Regions from separate parts of the Homo sapiens genome. Here region 2 is linked to region 1. The links come from fine-mapping of genetic effects on gene expression. Tissue or cell type: testis. Region 1 holds a variant in brackets; the other region holds the start of a gene. All regions are shown on one strand. Distances are between the middles of the regions.

The links.
Region 2: it holds the start of PAH, and the variant in region 1 is fine-mapped to the expression of PAH in testis (GTEx, PIP above 0.99).

The regions. Positions count from the first base shown.
Region 1 is chr12:102,946,559-102,954,883 of GRCh38, forward strand. It overlaps LOC112267865 (a long non-coding RNA gene), which reads right to left and starts at 4,287. Exons shown (of 4, transcript XR_945280.3): 1 at 4,031-4,287; 2 at 3,576-3,722; 3 at 185-244. It also overlaps a transcript of PAH not described here. RefSeq lists enhancers at 3,395-4,322, 4,931-6,344. The variant G/T (reference allele first, on the strand shown) is at 4,071.
Region 2 is chr12:102,914,239-102,922,238 of GRCh38, forward strand. It overlaps PAH (phenylalanine hydroxylase), which reads right to left and starts at 3,006. Exons shown (of 13, transcript NM_000277.3): 1 at 2,833-3,006. The coding sequence starts at 2,892.

The DNA of each region.
Region 1 (8,325 bases):
ACAATCCCTTTGCTGTCCCTTACCGAAGCACACAGATTCTCTGTCCATGCCATGCGTCCACTGCTGCTGGAGTGTTGGGGTGATGGGGGAGGAGTTGCATCAGCAATTCAAGACTGTCTTTTCTACCTTCTTAGGTGTCCCTTTCAGTGATATAAAACTAAAATAGCGTACTGTGATGGCTTACCTGATTTTTGGTTCTTATGAAGATGCTTTTTTGTGTGGATAGTCACACAATTTGGTGTTCCTGTGGGGAGAATGATAGGTGAAGGCTTCTATTCAGCCATCCTGTTCCCCTGTTCTGAAAGGTTTTGTAGAGGAGCAATAGGGTATGTGATACTTTGTAAAGATCTCTTTGTCTGGGGCTGTAATATAAAGTTCCATTTTTTTATGTTCTGATGCCTTTTATACGTGTGACTGTGACATTTAGTTAGATCATTCTGGTGGCAGTGAAGAAAAAGTATTTGAGGGAGATTAAACTAAAAGCATGAATACCAGCTGGGACAATACTGAAGTAAAGCAATGATATAGTAATAGGGAGGAAGAAAATGATTTAAATTCAGATGGATTTTTCATTATGTACATTTGTTTATATTATATACATACTAAATGTGTGTGTTTGTGTGTGTATATGTGTGTGTGTGTCTGTGTGTGTGTATAATTGTTAAGACTTGGTGGTTGTGGAGTGCCTGTGAGAGAGTGGTGAGAGTATGGCATGACCCCAGGATTTTGGTTTGACTGTGTGGGCAGATGGTGCTAAACCCTGAAATATAGAACACAAAAGGAGGGAACGAGTTGAGGGAATAAGCATGATCTCAGTTTCAAATATGTTGCCCTTGATACATCCATGGAATATTCCAGTAGCAATGTTGGTCACACCAGTTTCAGATCCCAGGGAGGTCAGTCCAGAACCAAGAATTTGAGAGTCATCAGCAGAAGAGGTGGAAGCTAAACTCTAAGGGCAGCATATGTCATCAAGGAACTTGACACTGGGGATGAGAAACTAAAAAAACTAAGTACTGAGAAACAAAGGATCAGAAGGATAAGAACCATGGTAGTCAAAGGAGGAGAGAATCTCAAGAAGAGATGAGTGATCAGCAGGGCCAGATGCATTGAGATGATCAAATAAAGTAGGACCTGATTTATCTTTTATGTGTAGCAAAATAGAGTCGGGGTGACTGTATTAGTCTGGGTTCTCCAGAAAAAAGAACCAGTAAGAAATTAGATGTAGATGGACATGTATTTCAAGAAATTAGCTCGTGTGGTTATGGAGGCTGAGTCCCAAGATCTGCAGTTGACAAACTGTGGACCCAGACTACAGTTCCAGTATGAGTCTGAGTCCAAAGTTAGGAGAAGACTAGTGCCCCAGCTCCAAGACAGGTAGAGAGAGTAAGTTCTCCCTCACTCATCCTCAGTCCCTCAACAGATTGGATGAGCCCTACCCACAATCTTTACTCAGCCCCCCTCATCCAGAAAGATTCCCACAGACACACTCTGGGTACTCCAGAGGGAAGAGCAAGAAATAAATGAAACTGTGGGTGTTGACTAATGTTCAAAAAATTTGTCAGAGGGCTGAAGGTGGTCACAAGGTCAGAGAGTGTATCAGCCTTTTTTTTAGGATGGGAAGGTACGCATTTTATAAGTTACAGGTTTATGAGTTAATCAATCAAACTTTCCTGAGTTGGGGGGAGACCAGATTGGAAGAAATAGAGCTCAGGAAAGGAGGTTGGAGAGAGGTAGGGCAGAAGTGAGGATGAGGAAGAATCAGAGGATGAGGCTACATATGGGAATGGAAAGTTAAGATTTCCAAAGTGGGGCTCTTTTGGGTAAAGACAAAGCCCAAGATGCAGACTTGCAAGGGGTGGCTGAAGAGGAATGGAGGTTAAGGCTACTGGAGTGGAGAAAGTCAAGGAAGCGAAAGGCTCCGGGGCTGGGTAGGTTGTTCCTGTGGATCTTTTCTTCCCGCTGCAAGTTTCTGACCATTCTTCAGGGCCAGTATCAAAGGCCATCTTTGTAATAACTTACTGAGCCTCTCCTCCCCCTCAAGTCACTAGGGCATCCTCTTACCCAAATAAAGTATTAACATATTTACATGGCTAGTTTAACTTCTTTATCAGAATATATTAGTTCTTCATGAGTCTGAGTAATGGAGACTGTCTTATCACCCAGAATACCTCTAGAGAAATAGTTCTTTATCTTTAGTATACAAAAGGACTTCCAGGTAGCTTGCTAAAAGAGCCAATTTGCCAGATTCTGATTTGGTGGGTCTGGGATAAAGCTTCAGAATCTGAATATTAACAAACATCTCAGTTATCTCTAATGGGAGTATCAGGGGAGAACGTCATTAAGTCCTCACGATGCTCTATGGTTGAACCAAATTGTATGGAGAAGAATTAATGGAATAGAATCAAGTAGTCCTGAATGAATCAAGTTGCAAATGTTCGCAGTCCCAGCTGCAGTTTGCGAAATAACCGGCAGGTGGCGAACGACCCACACAACTCGCAGAAATTACAGCTTCTCGGGGTCCCAATTCCTAGACCCAAAACTGCCCAGGAGTAGAGGAGAATCCTATTTCCCAAGCAATGCTGTCGGCGACAATGGTGAGTTTCATCCGTTTGCATGTGCATCCTGAGGTGCCAATGGCCGATCTCTTGCCCTAGTCCCCAGGGCTAAAGTCATGCTGACCCAATGACATTGCCTTCTGGCTACCAAGAGCCATAATCCTGGCACCAGCAAGGACTGGTCTCACTGATGACATCATTTGCCTAATGAAGGTTCTTATGGCAGGAGGGCAGTGGGAGAAGAACAGCAAACCAAGTTCGTCTATTCAAAGAGAGGAATGGTTGCCACTAGAGGATCATGTGGTCCACGCCTGTATTCTCTATTTAGTCAGAATCAGAGGGGAGGCATCTTACTCAACCCTCTCATTTTATAGAGCCTGAGAGACGATGAGCAACTTGCCAGAGGTCACAGAGGTAGAAAGTTTCAGGATTTTCTGGGATCTGTCTCTTTAAGTGACTTGCCTTTTCATTGCACCTAACAGTAACGTGTCAAAGGGTGTGTGTATGTTGAAATCATTAGTGTCTGCTCATGAATTGTTATATAGGAGAAGCTTAGGGGTGACCATCTGGTTGGGGAAGAGGGGCTGGATGACATTAGGATGTGTTTGCATAACAAGTCCACCACTTTTACCTAGATTGTGTATTTATTTGGGGTGGGAGATGCAGGAAGGTGGGAGTCCAAAGAGAAGGGACCATGGGGAAGAAGATTCTCCATGGTTGCCCCCACCGCATGTTTTAATGGACTTTCTTATACATCTGCTTTAATGTCTACTAAGTCACAAATGTATTGAAGGCACTCATTGTGTCTTATTCCCCTCTGATTAGGTTTCATAGTTATTTGATGAATCAATGAGCATGTCAGCCTTGATCATTTTTAGATCTGAACAGTATTTTCTAACATCTTAGATGATTAGCATATACCTCCTGTTATCTATTTCTGTCTGTTTGTACTTATTTAACACATATCCAGTGTTTACTATGTGCACTGTTGTCAGCATTTTAAAAATATCAACTTACTTAATCTTGTCTTTGTTGCTGTTTCCTAAAGAGTCCATGAGAGTGAATATCTACTATTAGAAATCCTTCTCTTCCTCTCTCTTCCTCTTCCTCTCAAAAGGCCTGAAAATCAGTTACTGGTCCCTGCCCGTGCTGCAAATACTTGGCCTAGGGAAGAGTGGTGGGGAGGGATGAAATAGTTAACTAGCTGACCTGGGGCGCACAGTTTCCCTGGCAGATGCCGCGCTCAGGCTGCGGCTGCTTCCTCCTGAATCTGTTAGGAGTACACTTTCCCTTTGCCCTCGGGGCCAGCGTCCAGGTTTGCCACGGTGGTGGAGACAGCTCCAGCCACGAAGCTGATTTATAGGCCAGAGCATTCCCAGGCCGCACCGCAAGGAGTCGGGCTGAGCTTGGACTTTGGGAAGGTGGTGATGGACACAGGACACGTGGCCACACAATGGGGACACACGACTGACCTCAGTCACTTCGGTAAACTGCCCTTGCTTTCCGGAGGCG[G/T]CAGGAACGTTTCAGGAGCTCCAAGGCTCTAGGCGCCTGCATTCCTCGCCCCAGCCGGTAGTCTCCTAGCCCTGTTGAACGCAAGAGCATCCAAGGGCGCGCAAGTCCCCAAGAGCTCTCAGAGGTTCCTGACCCTGAGCGTTAAAGCCCTTCCTCGCGGATGAGACCCTTGGTGCGTTCCACCCGCTTGGGGGCTGAGACTCGCCAGGACGCACTCAGAATGAACTTTCCGCGCAGGTCAGATATAGGCACCCAGGGGTTTTGTGACGTCACAATGCCGTCTGACCCGGTGAAAGGCAAAGGAAGGGTCAAAAACGGATAGTGTGTGTGTTGTGGCTGAAGTGGGGGCATGTGAGAAGAGGGAAGTCCGAGGAATGGGGGAAGGGATTTGGGGACATGAATTTGAGAAGGAGCAATCAAGTTTGTGCGTGGGGGGGGAAGCAGGATTTTTTCTTCTTCCCTCCTATATGCAAACTGTCACTTCGGGTTAGCGTGAGCCCTTATCTGGCTCATTAGCATGAGCTGTGGCTAACACGCTTAAACCCTCTAATTATTTATTATGCCGTCACGGGGCGGATTGCAACCCCACCCCGGGGCGCACTTTCGGGAACCTGCAGAGCTGGGCACCGCACGGGGGCCGGAGCACAGAGCCTGGCCCCGCTGCGCGCTACCAGGGAGACTCCTTACGGCTCAGGAGTCCCACAGGGTACTGTTCTGAGGGTCAACGAAGCAGAGTTGTTGGGGGTCTATCTGGAATGGCTTCTCACCAACATTCATCCCCAGGGTAGTAGTACTGAACTCGCCTGGTGAATCTACATAGCACCCTAACTTCTCCATTAACAACTCCAAAGACGGAAGTTGGAGCCAAGAGGAACAGACTTTGCAAAAATAAAAACAGAAGCCAAACCTGGTGCAAAGGGTTGGGAATTGGGCTGAGTAGCATGTTGGGTACACCTTCCAGAAGAACCCTGGGGAGAACCTAAAGTTTGCTGGAGCCCTCTTCCCCACCCCCGAGTTCCAAGAGGATCCACAAAGTGGGGGTGGGAGATTTGATGGGCTGAAATCCGGTCACTCACGTCCACGGTTCTATTCAGAAAACAGTTTCAAAATAAGTTAACCTCTGTAGGGCATTTTTCCCCCTCCCCTTTAAATTGTCCCCCCTTCCCCCTCCTTCTTCTCATTTGAGTCTGTTTTATGTTCCCCTGCGTTGTGCCAACTATTTTATCTTTATTCCTTCTCTTTCTCTCTTGCCATTCATTGCTTTTTTTGTGTGTGTGGCTTCTCCGGCTGATGTGCGGCTCGTTACCACCCACTGCACACTTGCTCCTGTAGCTGAGGTGTTTCTATACAAACTCCAGCGTCCAGTTGTCATATTAATTATTACACTGAGTAATGACTGAAATGGTCAAAATAAGGGGAGACTCAAGAGCGCTTTTTCTTGCGGCTCAAAGATTCAGCAAAGAAGCCGTACAACAAAGCACTAATTGGTCCCCAGAAACACTCTGACAAGGCATGGAAGATAGGTTTCATAGAGCCCTTCGATTGTGAAGGGGGGAGAGCTCTGAATGGACTCCACGCTTCTTTTCTAAACTCTCTTGCTGAGCAAAAAATGGACCTCTGTTTGAATACTGCCCTGATCCTTGAATACTACACCCAGCAGAGAAAAAAATGCACCATTTATTGTAAGTTTTTTTTTTCTTCTCCAGCTATTCAGGGGTTCTCTGTGAAGAATCAGCTGGTTTTGTTTACCATGAAAGACCTTTACTTTATTTTCATTCTTGGAGGAGGTGGGGAGGAGGAGGGAAGGAAAGCCATGTGCCTAGACAGAGAGGAGCTGGCCTACTGTAACAAAATAGAGTGTAACAAATCCTACAAAAGTTTAGAATGTATTGATTCTTTGGAGAGCTATATAGATTAACGACTTTCTTTATGCTCATCCAAGGAAGGTATTTAATCATAATGTAAATGGGGCTTTAGAAAAAAATAAAGACTTAGCGTTACTTCTCCTTATTTGGAGAACTTCAAAAGGACTTGTGAGGGTGGCTGCAAATTACCTCCTCACCCCACCCCACATTCCCTCCTTATCCCAAAAGCCACAATAAAATATAGTTTGTGCTTTTTTTGTTTTGTTTTTTCAAACTTTTTTCTTTTTAAAGCATATTGAAAAAGTGAATAGATTTGTTAGAAGGCTGAATTCCTTAATGCAGGTGCAAGCCTGGCTGCTGTGACCAGGAAGCTGAGCCAAGCCAAATACATGGTTTGTGCTATTCTGCCCCCTGAGCAGGCCCTCCAAGGCTGGTGCAGAGTCAATGCAGGCTGGGCAGCAATCCTTTCTGAAATTACCTTGGGTAGGGTATTCTTAGAGGCAGTAGATTGTGCAGTAAAGTCCTTTTCATTTTCCCTGGGTAGGACAGTGTCTAGCACAGCCTTAGAACAGCAGACACCCCAGCAGGACAGAGGCCCTGTATTAATTATAGCTCCTGGAAGATGAATATTGGCTATGAATGCCAAGCACACTCACTTTTCTCAAAGCATCCATTGCTTCTGGAACTCAAGTCACCCCCAAATTGAGGATTACACTTAAAATCCTGTAACAAAATCCAGAATCCAAGACTTGTGTTCATCTTTGTATTCCCTTTGCCCCTGATTCAGAATCTAACTAAAGTTAAAAATATAACTTTATTAAATTATTTGTCCAATGAAAATCCTAGTTTCACTTTTAATATCAATCCCTCTCCCCAAAGAGAAAGCATAAATTGGTTTTCAAAGAGATGAGTCATATCTTCTTTTTACAGAGAGACAACACACAATCAAGAGAACATACATAGGTCTTGAGCTTCAGCAAAGGTGGTACTGGCCTGGCCTTCAGCTGTGAATGGAAATTAAGGTGGCAGGAGACTCAGGGCACAGGGTCTCTGATCTCAGGGCAGCAGACCCCTTTGGCCACTAGGAAAGCCATCTCCCCCTACAGATCCTGATGCTGAATGAAGATAAAGTCTAATCTGAAGTATGGTTCAGCTCCAGAGTGTTCTGATATAGGAAAGGGGTCTGAAGGTGCAGAAATTAAGTCCCTTATTGTATTGGAGGAGAAAGAGAAGCCTTCTTATCTTTCTGCAATGTCTGTACTCTGGGTGATACTCACCAAAGGGGATCAGTGCTTTGTCCTTCCCACTCCCCCACCCTCATGACAAGACAGAACACTGAATGCTGCTATTCGGAAAAAGTGAAAAGGCAATCTCTGATATGTGGAGAGACTTGCAAAGCAAATTACCCAACAACATCTGATTTAATTCTCATAACACCCTTGACATACAGGCAAAGGGAGTACTACCACCTCATTTATGAATGAAGGTATCAAACCTTCCTTTTGTGAGTTGTTTACTTCTCCCTTCATGTGAAGATAAATGGGACATTGTTCAAGTGTCTTAGCCAACTAAAGCCCTAAGGACTTGCTCAGAATCAGGCCCACTGTGTGGCAAGGGAGCCAAGAAAGCAGGGCCCAGTGGCTCTGCTGAAGCCCCTTGCATGTGGAGGCCACAGAACATCTCTATAGTCTATCTTACTTGCTACTTTTCATGTCTAAAAATCGGGTTACTATCTCCATCATCTTAATATGCCAGTATCACCACCATTTCTCAAAAATGACAGGAATGACTCACCCCTAGGTGCTGGGACAGTGAGACAGAGTGGCACTGGATCTCCATTGGCTGGAGTGATGATCACAGAGTGGTTCCAGGAAGCCAAGTGCTGAGGCTCCTCCTGCCACACACCCTTTCCTGGGTGGGTTGTGTGAGCATGACTTTCTTATTAATCCCTTTCTCTTTAGACCTGGGCTAGAGTGCTCTACATACATATCATTGAAGTCTCACAACTCTTGGAGGTAGATACTATAATTACTGGCATAGGTGAAATAGAGACCCCTAGAGTGTCTCAGGGTCACACAGCTCTCAGGTAAAGGGGCCTAGATACCAAGTCAAATCAGCCTGCTTTATCTGGAATTCCATGGGCCTAGGAGAGCAGAACATGTGGCCAGTTCTCTCAGGTCGGGAGGAGGGATTATAATCTAGGTCACACAGTCAGAGGCAGGATTCTAATTTTGGCTCCTGAGCCTCCCATCTTTTGCTTCACACTGGTGAAAACAACCAGAAAGCCAATATCAATGGAAAACTCTCTTGGTAGAATCCCCAAGGATAGAAATGCAAACCTCTAAAGAAAAATTATAGACTGTTCTACCCTAGGGTTGGAGGAGAAAGTG
Region 2 (8,000 bases), 32 kb before region 1:
TTGATCATGATGTTATCTTTCTAAAAAACTTCATTTATTTAGAGCCTATATAAACATTTATTTAGAGCCTATAATTTCTGGGTATTATAATAAGCACTTGATTTGGATTATCTCATGTAATTTGGCAACAACCTAAGAGGTAGGTTTTATTAGGCACCAAGTGCCCCCTTTTATTGATGACAAGATTAAGGCTTAGAGAGGTTAAGGAACTTGCCTATAGTTACACAGTTAGCAGTGGAGCCAGGATCTGAACCCAGGTCATTTGATCTCTGCATACTGTCCATGAATCACAATCTCTTGCAGCCTCTATTCCTCTTCCCCCTTTTAAACCCTGCCAGAGAGGTACAGATGAGTCTCTGACTTAAGTCTTCTTCCTACTAAAGAATACTGAGCCTTCTTCTTTCCAGTTTCCTTGAAATGACAAAAGATATTCCTGTCTCTAGTTCACTTGGTAGCACTCTTTTCTCCTGTTGGCTTCCAAGAAAAGTAAGATATTTCTGATACACATCCACAGATGCCACTTTTGACTAGGGCAATTCAGACTTGAATGTACCTGGGCTTGAAGTTGAGTCACCCCCTAAACCCCACCCCACTACAGTGTGTGTTCAGCCAATCACAAGTCTGATCTCATCTTCTCCAGAAATGCCTCTGGGCATCAGGTCCTTTCTTCCCACTGCCATCACCTGAATCCATTTCTTAGTGGCCTGCATCGATCCAGCCTGACATTTTTACTCTTGTCCTTCTATTTAGAATCCCTCAAACGCTCCATCCCCATGGCTTCTTGCTGATGTTTGGCAGTTTCTGTGGTACCGAATCTCTGGAGGCCCACCTACAGGAACCTCCTTTCCAGCCAAGCTGCTTTCTTTCTTGCCTTTTTAGCTCCTCATTAGAGTATTCACCAAATTTCCCTTTCCAAGATCTCACCTTCCTTAAAGGCTCTTTTGGGTCTCAATTCTCTTAGGAAATGTTTGTTCCCCTCAGCCCAGGTGCACAATCACTTCTTTATCTATGCTTTCCACTTGGCATTTGATGCCCACATGGTATTTCATAATAATTGACTCACAGAAATTGATTTGTCCTTAGTGCTCATCTAGTTAAACTCCCTTACATTACAGATGGGGAAAACTTAGAGCCAAAGGGAGAAAATAACTCACCTGAGGCCACATAGGTAGTGGAGGCTGGTCAAGAACTCAGGCTCCTAATTATCAATTTTTCTACATAATTCCCTTTGCTATGGACATAATATGGGAATTTAGTCCTGTTTCTTGCAAAGTAAAAGATTTACTCTGGTCCAGTCACCAGACAGTTAGTCAATAGCACTCCTAACAGCCTATATTTCACCATGCTGATCCCCCTTCACTTGCTCCATTTCTCTCCATGCACTTTGTAAATCAGTGTTTCTCAATGAGTGTTCCTTGGATCTTGACTCCAAAATTACAGGTGATTCCTTCTTATAATGCAGTTCCCTGGGCTTTACCTAAACCTGTTGAATCAAGTTGTCTTAGAATCTGCCATTTCAAAACCATCCCAGGTGATTCTTAACCATAGAAAATTTTGGAACCATTGATATATATACAGCCTATTTTTTTAATTATAACTTTTCCCTAAATGTGTCTGCAAATTCACATTTACTATATAACACGACACTACTTTGTTTGTTATTAATATAATTTGTGGATTCTCAATCTTCTAAGTGCTCTATAAAGAACTTTAAACCCCTATGCTTTCCTGATGAGATCCCTGCCCCTAACCCCTTCCCACAGTTGTGGGGACCGTATTGCCAGCAGCACCAAAACTATGTGCAGGATGGAGCCAGGACCTGTTCTGGGATCACTCTGACTCTCACGCTGTTCCTCTGTACAATAAGTTCTGTCTCCTAAGAGCCATGTACTATTTTCATAAGAAATTTTTTTTTTTAAGGATTCAAATAAAAATCAGTCCTAAGTTCTGCAGTCTTTCTAGTTATATTAACGTTAACATTAACCATTCTTTTCTCTCCAGCCTCCCTGTTTTCTACTGAGAACTCTTCTCCCTAATCCTACTGATGACAGGGGCCTGCAGACTTACATTATTTCCCTGGCCTGGGCTTTATGACTGAATCTCAAGAGTCCAGGAGCAGACTTCCTCCCATGGGTAAATATGTAGGTCACATTAAAGAATGTATTCTGCAATTCTTCACCTCAAGAAAATGCCAACAAATCCCGGAGAATGGAATATACCTTGGGCATTATTTCCAAGTCACGTTTAGGGTTCTTTCACATTCCATGCCCAGGGCTAACTCTTGGTCATTTTCCTCTCTGCTTAGTTTCTGCCTCCCCTGGTCTGAGTAAGTTTCTGTCTGAATTCTCTTCATGCCTCATCTTCTTCCCAAAATGAAAGGAGGATAGTTACTCACAATTTTGCCATTTTGATACCTTGCTGAGAGCACTTTATAAATATTACAAAAGAAATCTAGAAGGATTCCACATCCCATCCCAGATCATTAGGGACCAGCCCCTTCAGTGTACAGAAGAGTAAACAGACAACAGAGAGGGACAGTAACTTGTCCAAAGACACACAGCTAATTGGTGGCAGTTCTGGAGGCCAGATCCCCAACCCCCTAAAGCAATGGTCATTCATTCCTGTGAAAGCCACCGAGGACAGATGTTCTCCTACTTAGAAACAATTGTTGAGGACATTTGTCTGTTGACTTCCTGGATATTCTCATCAGCTTCCAACGAATTCAGACTTCTTACTGAGCTTATGAAACCAGGAAGCACCAGCAGTCTTCGGATCTCTTTCTCTGGAGGCCCAAATTCCCCTAACTGAGCAGCTCAGGCTGCCGTGGCTCACCTGTCCAAAGTCAGAGAGTTTCCTGCCCAAGCCTGGGTTTTCCAGGACCGCAGTGGACATGCTGGCTCCCCGGGAGTGAGGTCTCTGGCTTTTTAGGGCCTCAGGTACAGGCAGGTTTGCAAACAGCACGTGGGGCTGAAGGTTTTAACCTCGCACTAGGGAGGAGAAGAGAGTTACAAAGGGTGTCTCTTGCGTGGTGCATCTCCGCACAGTAACGCCCCTCGTGGGCGTTGTCCTGACGCAGGAGGCCAGGGCAGCCTGCCGGATGCTCCAGGTCACCTGCCCAGGACGGGCCGGAGGGGAGGGGCTGAGGGAGGGTGTGGGGGACGCAGGAGGCACCACTTCGCTGCCCGCCCTGGGTAAAGGGAAGAAGCCAGGGAGCGACGGGCCACCCAAGCCCCGTCGATTAGACAGGTTTAGGCACTTCCGGGACTCTCAGAAGCCTGGGAAGCGAGTTCTCTGCAATTGGACTAAGCCTGCGACCGTCTGGTATAACAATTATATGAATAATCCGCCCCCCTTACCCCCAGCTGAAACAGTCAGGATTCTCATTTAGATTTTTGTTGTTGTTGTTTTCCCTTCTGTTAACCTCTAAGCACACTGCCTTGCTGTGCGCTGACTTCAGAAAACTACAGCTAGAGGGCACGTGAACGCTGAGCACAGCAGGTAAAGAGCAAATGTAAGAGCGATCTGGGTTTAAATCCAGCCTGGTGTTCTCCAGCTATTCGCACAACTGCTCCTGAAGCTCGGAAAAGAGGGTGGTAGAGCCACCTTGCTGGAAGGTTTTAAGAATAGGAATAAAGAAATGCATTAAAATTTAGTACAGTTCTTCCACATAAACACTCAGTAAATGGAAGATATTGTTTAAAAGCAAATCCACATAAATTTGACAATAATTACTGAGACCTGTACCGTGTGCTTGGTGGTGTTCTAGTCTTTGGGAATACAGCAATGAACAAAACAGACTCTGCCTCCCCAGCTATGCTGCCATTCTGGTGGGCAGAAAATAAACATATAAATAAGTTTAGGTAGGGCTAAGTCTTTTGAAGAAAGTAAAGTAGGGGGATGGTCTATGAGTGAGCTGGTGGGATTTGGCCAGTGGTCTTCAAATAGTCAGGAAGATGCCATTAACCACACTTTTAGAGAAGACTGAGGGTGAGGCATTACTGACCAGGAGGTAAAACAAAGTATAAAAGAATGCTGGAAAGCAGGTTCAGAGGTTCAGAAAGGATGTGAAAACTCAGGGGCCTCAAGCCTTGAGTGCCTGCTTAATATTTTCCCAAGAGAAAGTAATGGGCTGTAAGAAAATAAGCCAATAATAAAGGTTGCTGGAAGCCCATCCCTCTCCTCCCACTGTTCTTTGACCAAGCATCTGAAAATAAATAAACAAATAAATAAATAAATAAGTAAAATAAAACTCAGGTTTAGGATTCAAAACAAGTGGTTTAACTCTTGGTTCTACCACTGATTTGGTCAAGCCCATGCCTCAGTTTTTTTTTGTTTTTTTTTTTTGTTTTGTTTTTGTCTTTAAAATGAGAATTTTAAGGGATATTTAGGATTCCTTAAGCCTTTATGATGTGCCAGGCTGTCTACTGTCTGCTAAGAATACAGATATAACAAGTGCAATTTCTGTCCAAAAGGAACCTTTAGGGGCCTGATGAATATTTCCCATAGTAAGTTGGAAGCTCAATGTTGTTAAATATTGAAGGCGAAGATCTTGATTTCCATCCTCAGGAGAATCTGTATTCTTTATCTGACTCCGGCATTTTTCAGTGTAGTAGACATAAAACATGTTGTATTCCTCAGCCTCAGGATTTTCTTACAAACATAATTTCATCCCTTGATGCTACTTGAGGGCAATGAATGTGACAACTCCAAAAATATTACAGGCATGCAATAAAGAAAAGCAAAGAATATTATCTACTTATTTGCATGCACACTCTGTCTTAGACACTGTGCCACGCTCTCCACGTGCATGGTTTCACTTCTTCCTCTTAACAATCCCATGAACTATGCACTCCCTTTTAATAGGCAAGAAACTGAGGCCTAGGAAGTTTAAACAAATGGCCCAAATTCAATCTATGTTTCACCCAACACCAAGGCACTGCACTGGCTCTCAAATACTTTTGCTTTCCTGTTTGAAATGAGGACAACATAATTTTTAGGACAACAAAATGATAGCTTTTCTTTCTTCTCCCCATAACAGCTGAAAATGCAACTCTTTTTTCTAATGTTTAATTTTTGTGGGAACATAGTAGATGTATGCATTCATGGAGTATGTGCAATATTTTGATACAGGCATGCAATGTGTAATAATCACATCATTGAAAATGGGGCATCCATCCCCTCAAGCATTTATCTTTTGTGTTGCAAACAAGCCAATTATACTCTTTCAGGTATTTTTAAATGTATAATTAAATTATTTTGACTATATTCGCCCTGTTGTACTATCAAATACTAGGTCTTATTCATTCTTTCTATATTTTTTTGTACCTATTAACCATCTCCACCTCCCCTCCAGGCCCCTACTACCCTTCCCCACCTCTGGTAATTAGCTCTCTACTCTCTAGCTCCATGAATCAGATTGTTTTGATTTTTAGACCCCACATATGAGTGAGAATATGTGATGTTTGGCTTTCTGTGCCTGGCTTATTTCATTTGACATAATGACCTCCAGTTCTGTCCATGTTATTGCAAATAACAGGATCTCATTCTTTTTTATTGCTGAATAGTACTCCATTGTGTATTAAAGTACCACATTTTTTTAAAACCCATGTTGATGGAGACTTGGGTTGCTTCCAGATCTTGGCTATTGTGAACAGTGCTGCAACAAACATAAAAGAACAGACATCTCTTTGATATACTGATTTCCTTTCTTATAGGTATATACCCAGCAGTGGGATCACTAGATCATATAGTAGCTCTATTTTTAGTTTTTTGGGGAACTGCCAAACTGTTCTCCATAGTGGTTGTACAAAAATGGAATTTTTAATCCTATCTCACATAAAAATGCCCTAAATCTAGGTTGAGAGGAAAGCACATCATTGCTATCTGAGAGAAGAAAAACTAATCGCTTCTTTAAAAAAAATTATTCTGGCAAAAAGGAAAAATTTATTTATGCACTAAGATAAAAATAAGAGATTGCTTGTGCCATAAACTTGCAGATGATTTTTAAGCCACCTTTTTGTTCAATTTGGTTGGAATGCAATGTGCTGCTATAATGAGAGCAGTGCTGGGTGCTAAGGAAATGGAGGAAAAAAAGGCACATCTAGAAGAAGCATCCACAGTCAGTCAGTAGACCACTGAGGTATTTTTTAACACTGCACAGAGGTGGGGAACATGTCACAAGATGAGAAGTTGTGTACTTGGCAAACTTAGAGCTGACCTTTGCTGATTTGGAAGTTGAAGATTACCCAACCATTGCAGGTTTATCAGTTCTTTCTTGTTTATCTTCATGTGCAGAAGGTTGAGTTAATCATAATCCATGAGTTCATGGCACAGAAACAAAACCTACATGACCCTTCTCTTGTTTTTTTATTCATTCTCTTTTATCATAATTCCTCACTCTCACTGCCTTTCCCCAGAGGCAACTTCTCTAATATGATGTTTAGCCTTGAACTTGTAAAATACATAGAAATGTTTGTGCGTATATGTATTTTTCATGGATATGTGATGTGGCACTATAGATTTACTACAATCTATGGATGTACTATAGATTTCATAGTTTCTTTTTTCTTTCAACTGTGTTCTTAGGATCCAGCCATGCTGCTGAATATGTATCTAGTTCTTTGCTTTTCTAAATGGTTCAGAATATCCCAGTGTGTATTTGCCACACTTGACTTCTTTATTTTCCAGTTATGGACATCTAAGTCATTGCTAATTTTTCACCACCCCAAACAATACTGTGATAAATTTCCTTATCTTTCTTCCCTTATAGGCCTGGGGTAGAAATTTTCTGGGATAGAAGAGTGGTGCTATTATGAATCATAGGGAACATGCACTCTTAATTTCACAAAGTGCTGCCAGATTGCCCTTTAGAGTGGCTTGGACCAGTCTACACACCAACCAGCAGGCAAAAGAGTTCCTATTGGTGGGTATACCTAATATGTGGTATTCTCCAAAGGTCAGAATTTTTGCCAATCTGATCAGCATAAGCTGGTGTCTTGTTGTTTTTAATTTGAATTTCTCTCATAACTCATGAGTTTGAGCATCTCTTTATATACTTATACCTCTTAGATTTCCCATGCTATGAATAGTTTATCATCATATTTTCTACCCATTTTCTACTAGGATTCCTGTCTTGTAGATTTGTTGCAATAATTTCTGTTAGCTCTGTGTCCAAATATTAGCTCTGTGCCCTTCTCAGTCACTGAACACATTGCCTCCCAATGTGTCACTGTCAGTTAATTGTCAACTGGTGTCCTTCCTTGATTAAACAATAAAACAAGTAATTTTGAAATAACAAGTCCATCCTTTTAAAAATTTTTGTGGTTTGTACTATAGAGTATTGTTTAAGAAGTCCTTCCCCATCCCAAAGTTCCAAAGAGGTGCTCTTCTCTCTAGCATCTAGATCTATCATAGCTAGATCTTTAATCTACCTGCATTGTAGATATACCTGTACATGCCTTGGGGATTTCTTAGAGGCTTTTCAACATGGTCCCACAGTCCAGGTAATACCACTTAACTTAAAGAGGCCAATCCCACAATCAATTGTCTTTTGGGATTTTCTCACCATAGAGCCTATTTTAACTTTCCGCTAGATATATAGATCAAATTTTCTTTCTCTGATTTGAAAGTTATCCCTTATATTTTAATTTTTTTGCTGTATTTTTATTTTTTTGCTCCAAGTTATATAATTTTTTCCTTTTAGATATAACTTTTTTCATTTATTTTTGAGGAGGTGAGCACTCATATGGCTCAAACATCAAAATATAAAACCTAGTGAAAATTATTTCACATTCCCCTGTTCATCAGGCACCTGATTCTCTTCTCCAAAGATAACCAATGTTGTCAGTTTCTTCTAGAGATCTTTAAGCAAATATTTATGATAGTGTATATGCATATATTCCTTCCCTCCTTTTCTTACACAAATAGTAGCATACTATACATGATTCTAAATCTTGCCTTTTTTTTTTTTTTTTTGAGATGAAGTCTCGCTCTGTTGCCAG